2 linked regions of the Homo sapiens genome follow. The protein of the gene in region 2 interacts with the protein of the main gene of each other region in a pairwise test. Each region holds a gene or a part of one and is shown on either strand. Other genes may lie near its edges.

The links. The genes of interacting proteins can lie anywhere in the genome.
Region 1: the proteins of VGLL1 (region 2) and LONRF1 interact in binary tests that used the Homo sapiens proteins (3 or more experiments, as listed by UniProt).

Annotation. Positions count from the first base shown.
Region 1 is NC_000008.11:12,731,527-12,735,026, forward strand, and holds part of LONRF1 (LON peptidase N-terminal domain and RING finger protein 1), read right to left. Parts: intron 332-3,500; coding exon 210-331; intron 1-209.
Region 2 is NC_000023.11:136,548,092-136,553,652, reverse strand, and holds part of VGLL1 (transcription cofactor vestigial-like protein 1), read right to left. Parts: intron 5,065-5,561; coding exon 4,645-5,064; intron 2,886-4,644; coding exon 2,832-2,885; intron 2,776-2,831; exon of another isoform or gene 2,693-2,775; intron 1-2,692. UniProt on the Homo sapiens protein: May act as a specific coactivator for the mammalian TEFs.

The DNA.
Region 1 (3,500 bases), on a different chromosome or scaffold from region 2:
CACAGAGCTGAGTCAATAACTCCCTATAAAACATCCGGATGTTACCAAGTGAACTTTTATAAGATTCTGTCTGTTGAGGACCACGGAAACAGACCAATACTTCTTGACTAGACTGAGATGAACTAAAGACAGGATCCAGCTTGCGGTGAGGTTTTTCCTTACTATTAAAGGGTAGTAGTTCATAATTTTTTTTATGAGAAGAAACTTACTGTGAGAGTTCAGCAGTTTCTTCATCATATATTTTTTTTCTCTCAGACAGTTCATCAGGCAGATACTTCACTATTAATTCTTCCAACAGCTGTGTGACACAGTACCTCCTATCTGCTAGATACTAAAAGACAATATTATTTTACATTCCAGCAGTGGTTTTCCTACAGTATAAAACAGGCAACACAGTTAACTGATATATTAAAGCCTTTATTACATACTTATACCATCAATTCTGGATTAATTAGTGAGGGGAACATTACAATGGATGATGCTAAGCAAAAAAACCTGTCTGAGGCTTTGCACAAGAGCAGTAAAGATAGTTGGCTGCAACCTGAACCAAGCCCTGTACAGAAGAACTGCTTCCTGCTGTGACCACAGCTTCTCTATTAGCCGCAGAGGGCCCTGCCCTGCCGTCTTCCACAACAGAGGCCCTTTTCCACCTGACAGCTCATGGGCACTAAACTATCATTTTAACTGAGATACAAAAACGGGATAAGGAATAAATAAAATAACACATTTGCCTTATTTAAGAAAAGCAAAACATCTGTTTTGTTCCCAATTTCAGACACAGTCTCTAGATAAATTTTCTTTCAGATTTTTCTTCCATTGTCACCCACTATTGAGTAGAGGAGCAGACCTCAACTCTGTCCTTGAGTGACCCAAGGAAGGTGCGTTTCTTGGGACACTATCACTCAGACCCTTATCAAGATATTGCTTTTCCTGTATGATCCATCTACCCCAGCTCTATATAAAATCTTACATTTGCGCTGACCCCTAAATACTCTGAAAAAGTACTATCCTCATGCATTTTTGTGTTATTCTCTATTCCAACTTACAAAAGCCATCTCTCTCACTCCTGCTTATGCAAAACATGTCTATCCTTCAAGGTCTGACTCCAATTTTACCTTTTTCACAAACTCTTCCTTAATTATTTTTTTCTCTCCCAAGAACCCATATTTTACTGTTTTTACCACATAGTAGGCATTGTAGCGTGTAGTATATGTACACAGATATATTACATCTCTGTAGTTAAACTAAAAATTGCTTAGGGTAGGGCCAGGGACATGGTCAGGGTGTATGCACAGAACTTTGTACAAAGAAAATGCCCAATACATATTTATTTCATAAAATTAGTGAGGAAAACCTCCTGGGAAACTATCACAAGATGAAGCCATCCTTGAATCTGCAGTCAGTAAAAGCAAGGGTTTTGTCATTATCCAATGAAGAGTAGATGGGGAAATGCGAGAGGTTGGGAAACTGGTGGTGGTTTTCAAAGTTTAGCATGAATCGCGGCTTGTTAAAATACAGACTACTGAGCCCCACGCCAGAGTCTCTGAGCATCTGGGGTAGGGTCCAAGAATCTATGTTTCTAACAAGTTGTCAGGTGACAGATGCTGCTGGTCAGGGGAGCATGGGGAGAGGTGGCCTTGGGCAGGTAGTATATACACAGATAATAAGTGTTTATCACAAAATTAATCAAATTAGCTGTCATAAAAGCAATTCCATTATCATTTTCTATTAAGTTAATAAAGATGTTTAAACATCTAGGGAAATACAGCCACTCTTACATTACTGATAAAAATCTCAATAAATGTAACATTTCTGGGGATGAGGCAATCCAACAATTGGTTTTAAGGGCTTCATAAATATATGGCTTTTGATCCAATAATTCACCTCCCAAAAATTTAACCTAAGGAAATGGTTATTGCCTTATTTAAGAAAAGCAAAACATCTGTTTTGTTCCCAATTTCAGACACAGTCTGTAGATAATTTTTCTTTCAAGTTTTTCTTCCATTGTCACCCACTACTGAGTAGAGGAGCAGACCTCAACTCTGTCCTTCAGTGACAGATATATAATATCTGTCATAATATCTTCGATTACATAAAGATGCATAAAATCATTCATTTTAAATGATGTTGGCAAAAGCATAGTATATAAAAAAGAGAACAAGAAACCTTATATATCCAACAACAAAGAAATGTTAAATCACTGGACTATTATGCTGCTATAAAAACAATGTATCTAAAATAGATGGAAATGGAAAAATGAGCAAAATAAAATGACAAGTAGGAAAAATGTAAAACTGAACAGCATACCAATCTTTTTTAAAGTATATGTATTTTGAATTTACAAATTATATTACGCAGGGTATCTTCAAAGTTGGAAACAGGATATTGCTAAATAGTATGTTAGTTATACTTTCAAAAAATATGCTTAGTATATATTTTTCAATCTCCAGACATTTTTTAAAGAGGGAATATCCCTAATCAAAGCAATAGATCTAATATTATGCCAAAAACCACAATTACTTTTGCACCAACCTAACAGTTAATCTGGAAAAACAAGCATCATAGTTATCCTGGGGGGGTATTTAAATGAAGTCTGGAAAAATAGCATGTTTACAGTACTTCATCTAAAAACATTGAGCATATTAGCTAAAAATGTAACTAACAAACTCTTTTAAGAATAAATGTATCTGATGTTTCCTGACTTTGAGAAAATTCTAAATATGCTTTTGTTTTACATATCAGCTTGTTATATATGTAAGACACATATCAAATGTAATAACAGACATGCTATTATGACATCCGTACTGAGTTGTTTTCTATACAGGAAATACTGTATGTATATTCATAATGGTTTTATGAATTTTTCAATTCATATTTGGAAGATACTTTTTTTTAAGCAATCCTGTCAATCACCAGAGACAGAATCACTTTCCCCAATCAACGCTACAAACTGCAATTGCCTCTCAGAATCACAGGCTTTAGCCTGACAGTAGGTGATCTGCAGTCACTCAAGCATGATTAAGAGGGTGCTCTCTTCTCATCAATTAGAGAAGACATCCACTGAGATCTAGCTACTTTCCTATCACAGGTTATTAGCACTGATCACTGACTCTACAAGAAGGGGAATAGGAAGCTGTACCTCCCTCTCTTCTTTCCAATCTACCACTTTTCTAGAGCTGCATTGCCCAATGTCGCAGCCATTAGTCACATGTGCCTACTTAAATTTAAGTTAATAAAATGTAAATATAGTTCCTCAGTGACACTAACCATATTTAAAAGCTTAACAGGCAAACATGGCTAATGGCTAATATATCTGACAGCAAAGATATGGAACATTTCCATCAATGCAGAAAATTCTATTGAACAAAGTTGTTCTAGATGTTGAGGAAGCTGAAACAGTCCTCACATCTGGCTTATTATTGAGGGTTGGAGGCAGGGCAATAGGGTTTCCCCAGTATAGTCATCACCAAAATTGAACTTATCCCTGACCAGATAACTAA
Region 2 (5,561 bases):
TAAATGAGGTTAATATAAATTATATAAAGAATAAAACATGAGGCCAGGAGCAGTGGCTCACGCCTGTAATCCCAGCACTTTGGGAGGCCAAGGCGGGCTGATCACCTGAGGTCAGGAGTTCAAGACCAGCCTGATCAACATGGGGAAACCCCATCTCTACTAAAAATACAAAAAATTAGCCAGGCATTGTGGCGGGTGCCTGTAATCCCAGCTACTTGGGAGGCTGAGGCAGGAGAATCACTTGAACCCAGGAGGCGGAGGTTGCAGTGAGCCGAGATTGCGCCATTGCACTCCAGCCTGGGCAACAAGAGCAAAACTTCATCTCAAAAAAAAAAAAAAAAAAAAAGAATAAAACATGAAGAGGCAACTGAGTCTCATGCCAAATCTACTCCCCCAGGAAGTGGGGGAGCAGGATCTGGGCAGTGAACAAGCTCCCCAGGTGGTTCGTACCATCAGGCAAGATTGGGAGACTGGTGTCATGCTTAAGAGCATGGGCTTTGCTGGGTTCCATTGTCCTTTTACTTGGAGCCCTAGGAAGTCCCTTCTCTTCCTCTCAGCTCCATGTTACCTCCCTCTGCCCAGGGCCACAGTGTTAGAAAGGCAGACTTGGGCCTGTTGGCATAGCCACCTTTCCTCAACTACTCTCTGCAAGGAAAGAACATCCCCCACCTTCTTTCCCAAAGGTATATTTTTCTTTGCTCTTTTGCTTGCTTTCTGAGCCTTCTGCATCCCCCTTCCTTTATTTTAGGATAGTGCCCTGGTCCCAGATAGACAGTGAACTCATGTGTGGTAAAATAATCTCACCAGTGACTAATTTTCACTGTTGTATACTTGATTTAACTTGGAATTGTTTCTGATAATTTTATGACACTGTGAGAGCAAGGAGATAATACTGCATCTGCCACTTGCTGCTGTGTGATTTAAGGCAAGTCCTTTCACCTTTTTGAGATCCAGTTTCTTCATCTATAAAATGGGGATATTCATTCATTCAATCACTATTTACTGAATATCGGTTGAGTAAAGCACCTAGGACATATTCACATACACCTCACAAGGTCATGGTGGGGACTAAGCAAGATGGAGTATGTGGTATGTGGCTCATAGTCAACACCCAATACATGTTGTTGTTGCTGTTAGTTTTAGTCTATGAACAATTTTAAGCATCAAGTTATCAGTAATTCTGAGACTCACAATAAACAAATGTAGAAACTATTAACAAGTACTCAGGAAACACCACAATCCTTGCCTTTCATAAGTTAGAAGGCCAGCAGAACTCATTTCCTTGGGCAGGGACTTATGTGATGCCTGCCTTGGCTATGCTAAGGCTTTTGAACCAGCTCTAAATGAATCTCCTCATGGAGGCATGGCCAATTAATCACCAGGGTTGGTTTTTGTTTTGTTTGTCTCTCACACGAAGGCATCAAACAGAATAATTTTTACTACATTGGAATAATTTTTACTACATTACTACATTTTCTTACTGTTTCCTTGTTAAATGCTCTTTTATTGTTTCCAGCATTCACTCATTCATTTATTCAACAAATTTGTATACCACTGTGCAAGGTGCTAGGGATACAGTGGTATACCTCTCAAAGTCTCAGTCCTCATGGGGTTGACATTCTAGTGGGGTCTATAGATTGCCCTCACCCCTACTTCACACCAGACTGTCAAATGCCTGAGATCAGGGGCTGTGGTAGTGGCTCTTCCTTTGGATCCTCTCTATTTTTATTTTTTATGGAGATGAGGGTCTTGCTATGTTGCCCAGGCTAGTCTCTAACTCCTGGGCTCAAGTGTTCCTCCCGCCTTGGCCTCACAAAGTGCTGGGATTACATGTGTGAGGCACCACACCCAGCTTGAGTCCTCTCTTAAACACAGCACACAGAGCACAGCTTGGGGAACACAGGATGCCCTCCAAAAAGAATTCTTGATGGTTTAATGTATGCCAACGCTTAGAGTAATGTGCCAGCCATTATTCTAAGCATTGGTATACATTATTTCATTTACTCCTCACACCTCACCCAATGAGGTGGGCACTATTTTATGCTTATTTGACAAAAATGAAGCAACTGGGGCATGAAGTGGTTAAGAAATGTGACCAGGTTCCTGAAGCAAGTAAATAATAAAGCTGGCAATTGACCCTGAACCCAGGTCATGAAGATCCTCCTGTCATTCCACCCAGATTGTCCTCTTTTGTAAGTTCCCACTGACACCACTTTCAAATTGAGTGTGGAGCTCAGAGTCCTGGCCTCATGCCTCAGTTGACATTTTCACTGACTGCAGAGTCCTGGGGTGGCCCTATGTACTAGGCTGAAAACTGAACATCTGGGACACAGCAAGCTAATCCTCATCCTCATGAATTTCTTAATTTTTCTGGGTCACCTTGGCTATTTCAGTTAAGTCCAGCTCAGGTTAAAAAAAAAGAAATAAATAAAAGAATACTAGGCTGAAAACTGAACATCTGGGACATAGCAAGCTAATCCTCATCCTCATGAATTTCTTAATTTTTCTGAGTCACCTTGGCTACTTCAGTTAAGTCAAACTCAGGTTAAAAAAAAAAGAAAGAAAGAAAAGAAAAAAGAAACTAAGGAGAGTTTCTTCTATAGCAAAATAAAATTTTACAAGATAGGAAGTGCATATACTCTTTTTTGAGGCTAAAATGAAACAAATTCTATCTATGAAAACACTGAGTGATAGAAATAAGGCTCCCGTCCATTACTGGAGACTCTGGGTTTTATACTACCAGTGTCTCCAGTAGTAGACAGAAGCCTTATTTCTCAAGTTCGTTCTCAGGATACAGACACACACCATCAAAGGCTGGCCCAGATACCTACTTTCATTTGGAAGGCTGGTACTGGCAGATCCACGAGATACATATAGTTTCTTATCTAGAAAAGAAGAAGAAAACATTATTGGAACTGAAATTTCTAGGACTAGGTTAGAGAGTGCCCAGTAGCATTCCAGGGGCCCCACATTGCCTGGCCCTAAGTTTATGAATATCTAGCATATTCTCTCATATCAGATGCTACAAAAACTGAGAAGCTTCTGTTTTAAAGGTCCACCACCTTCCAAGGCAGTGTTCCTGATTAAGGGTCACTGACTTCCTCAACAGATCCTGGACTTCCAGTCACCAATTAATACAACTCATGTCAACATGAGTAGAGCATGAAGACCTTGGTGATAACCATTTGTTTGTGAATGTGTCTTGAGATTTCAGGAATAGGACAATGCCTGCATTAGTTTCACCATGATGTGCCTTGCTTACAGTAGATGCTCACTAAATATTTGCTGAATTGGACTTGAACTGTAAAGAGTTGCTAAGTTTGGAAGGTGATGATTTCAGCCATCTGTGTTCTAACCTACTGTCGAAACAGGGCTTTGCTGTGTGTATGCACAGGCATATATACAAGCACAGTTGGCCTAATTTTCCCTGTGAATCCAGTAGGAAAGGACTTTTGAAAAAGAGTAGAGGGGTAGGAAATTTCACAGGTTTCCCAAACATGACACTTCTATGATTTACTCCTTAAGTACATTCCTAATCAAATTCTGGAAATGACAGAGTGGTATTTTAATGGGAAATTTGTTTTCCACATTAGAATAGAACACAGTGCCTGACTTAGGTAGGCTATGCTGAACAGGCCTTTTGTTTACTATATGCTTAGTTCAGTGTAAAGATGGCTTCTAGTAATTTCTTTCAGGCATGGAACACTAGAACCACACTATGTATGGACAAGGAAGCTGCAAAAGAAAATTCGTCCAGAGTACAGAATGGCAGAGGATGCAGACTTGGTTCCATGAAACTATAAAATATATATTTATAAGTGTTTCATATTAAAGGCAAATCTTGCAACAGAGTAGGTTGATTTTTTGGTGGAAGTATAATTAATGCCAATTCTTCCCCGTCCTTTTACAAAGAAGGGAGCCTTGTTTTCTGATGGATATTTTGCATCTGGTAGGCGCAAATTAAATATTTGCTGGGTGAATGAGTGAATGAAGAGGTGAGTAAGCCTTAAGGGTGTTTTTAGTTCAGGGGAGGGGTGGTGGTCAGGGAGCAGGAACCCAAGGGAAACCAAGCAGGAGGATCCCAGAGTGCAGGAGCAAGCCAAGGACAGTCAGGCACTGTTAGGTCTCCAAGCAGCAATGGGGCTGCCTCCTACAGTCGCTTTGAATTTTAATGTGTGGAGCAGATGGTTGGTATAGATTGCCCTTGTTGTTTGCCTGGAGCCTGACATCACTGCAAGTTGCCAACCTGTTTAGAGGCTACAGTTTGAGCCTGTAGGTACGTCACAGAGCTCTGTTCTGCAAATGGCTTATTTAATTGCTCCCAATGAGGTAAACACAGGACCCTGCGATATTACGCAGCAGCCCATCATTTTTCTAAGGTAAGGCCAAGTTGACAGGCTAGGGTGAGTACTTCGGGCCAAGTCCATCTGGCTGGCTATCTATGTAACCCTTTAGCTATTAAACTGTGAATGTCAATGAAGCCTAGTGAAGATGTATGGAACATTTAAGCAGAACATCCCTTCCCTCAGCAGCCCTATGTCCAGAGTGGCAGCAATTAGTCTTGGCACCTCATCTCATGCCAACTCACTCTCAACCACAACCAATCAGAGGCACCCCTCCAAGTATCTGTAGGCATTTCCTTACAGTGAACTGAGCCGGGAGGCAGGTTGAAGAGCAACCCTGTGCTTCCAGCTATCTGGCCAGGGTTGCCATTCTCCCTGGCGGCAGATTCCTGAGGACGGGCTAGGCATCTGTCTTGCTGGAGGAGACTTAGGAGAGGCTCACGTTTCCCATCAGGCTGGGGCTCTGGAACCAGGTGCCGAGCGGGGAAGGGATGAGAGTAGCCAGGCTCTAAGGAGCTGGTGCCCGCCAGGGAGGAGAAATGCCACAGCTCCCCAGGCCGAACAGAGGCCCTCCTAGCCAGGGACGGTGAGAACTGATTCACAGCCATGGGACCAGGCACATGCAAGTTGCAGTTGGCGGCACGGTTTGTGACAGGTACTTCTGGTTGTGGCTTTGTCCATGGAGACGAGTAACGCCACTGATTTGGAGACATGCTATCATCTGAGAAGGAAAGATTTAGAAGACATGTTAGGTGTTTATTGTTTTCAAAATGGATGTAGTTTTTTTTTTAATACATACTCTATTTTTTTTAACTTGAAGGAAATACAGAAAAGCTAAAATAAAATCATCCTAATGATAATATCCAGAAACAGCCATTGTCCTCCGTAGGTGTACTGTTTCTAGGATTGGTTTCTATTCATGTATGCATTGTTTTCACAACATATATTGTTATTCAAGCCATTTTTGCTTCATTAAAATATCATGAAAAGCCTCCTATAGAAATGAATAGGCCAGGCACAGTGGCTCATGCCTGTAATCCCAGCTTCTTGGGAGGCCGAGTTGGGCAGATCACTTGAAGCCAGGAGTTCGAGACCAGCCTGGCCAATATTGTGAAACCACATCTCTACTAAAAATACAAAAATTAGCTGGGTGTGTTGGTGCACACCTGTAGTCCCAGCTACTCGGGATGCTAAGGCAGGAGAGTTGCTTGTGCCCAG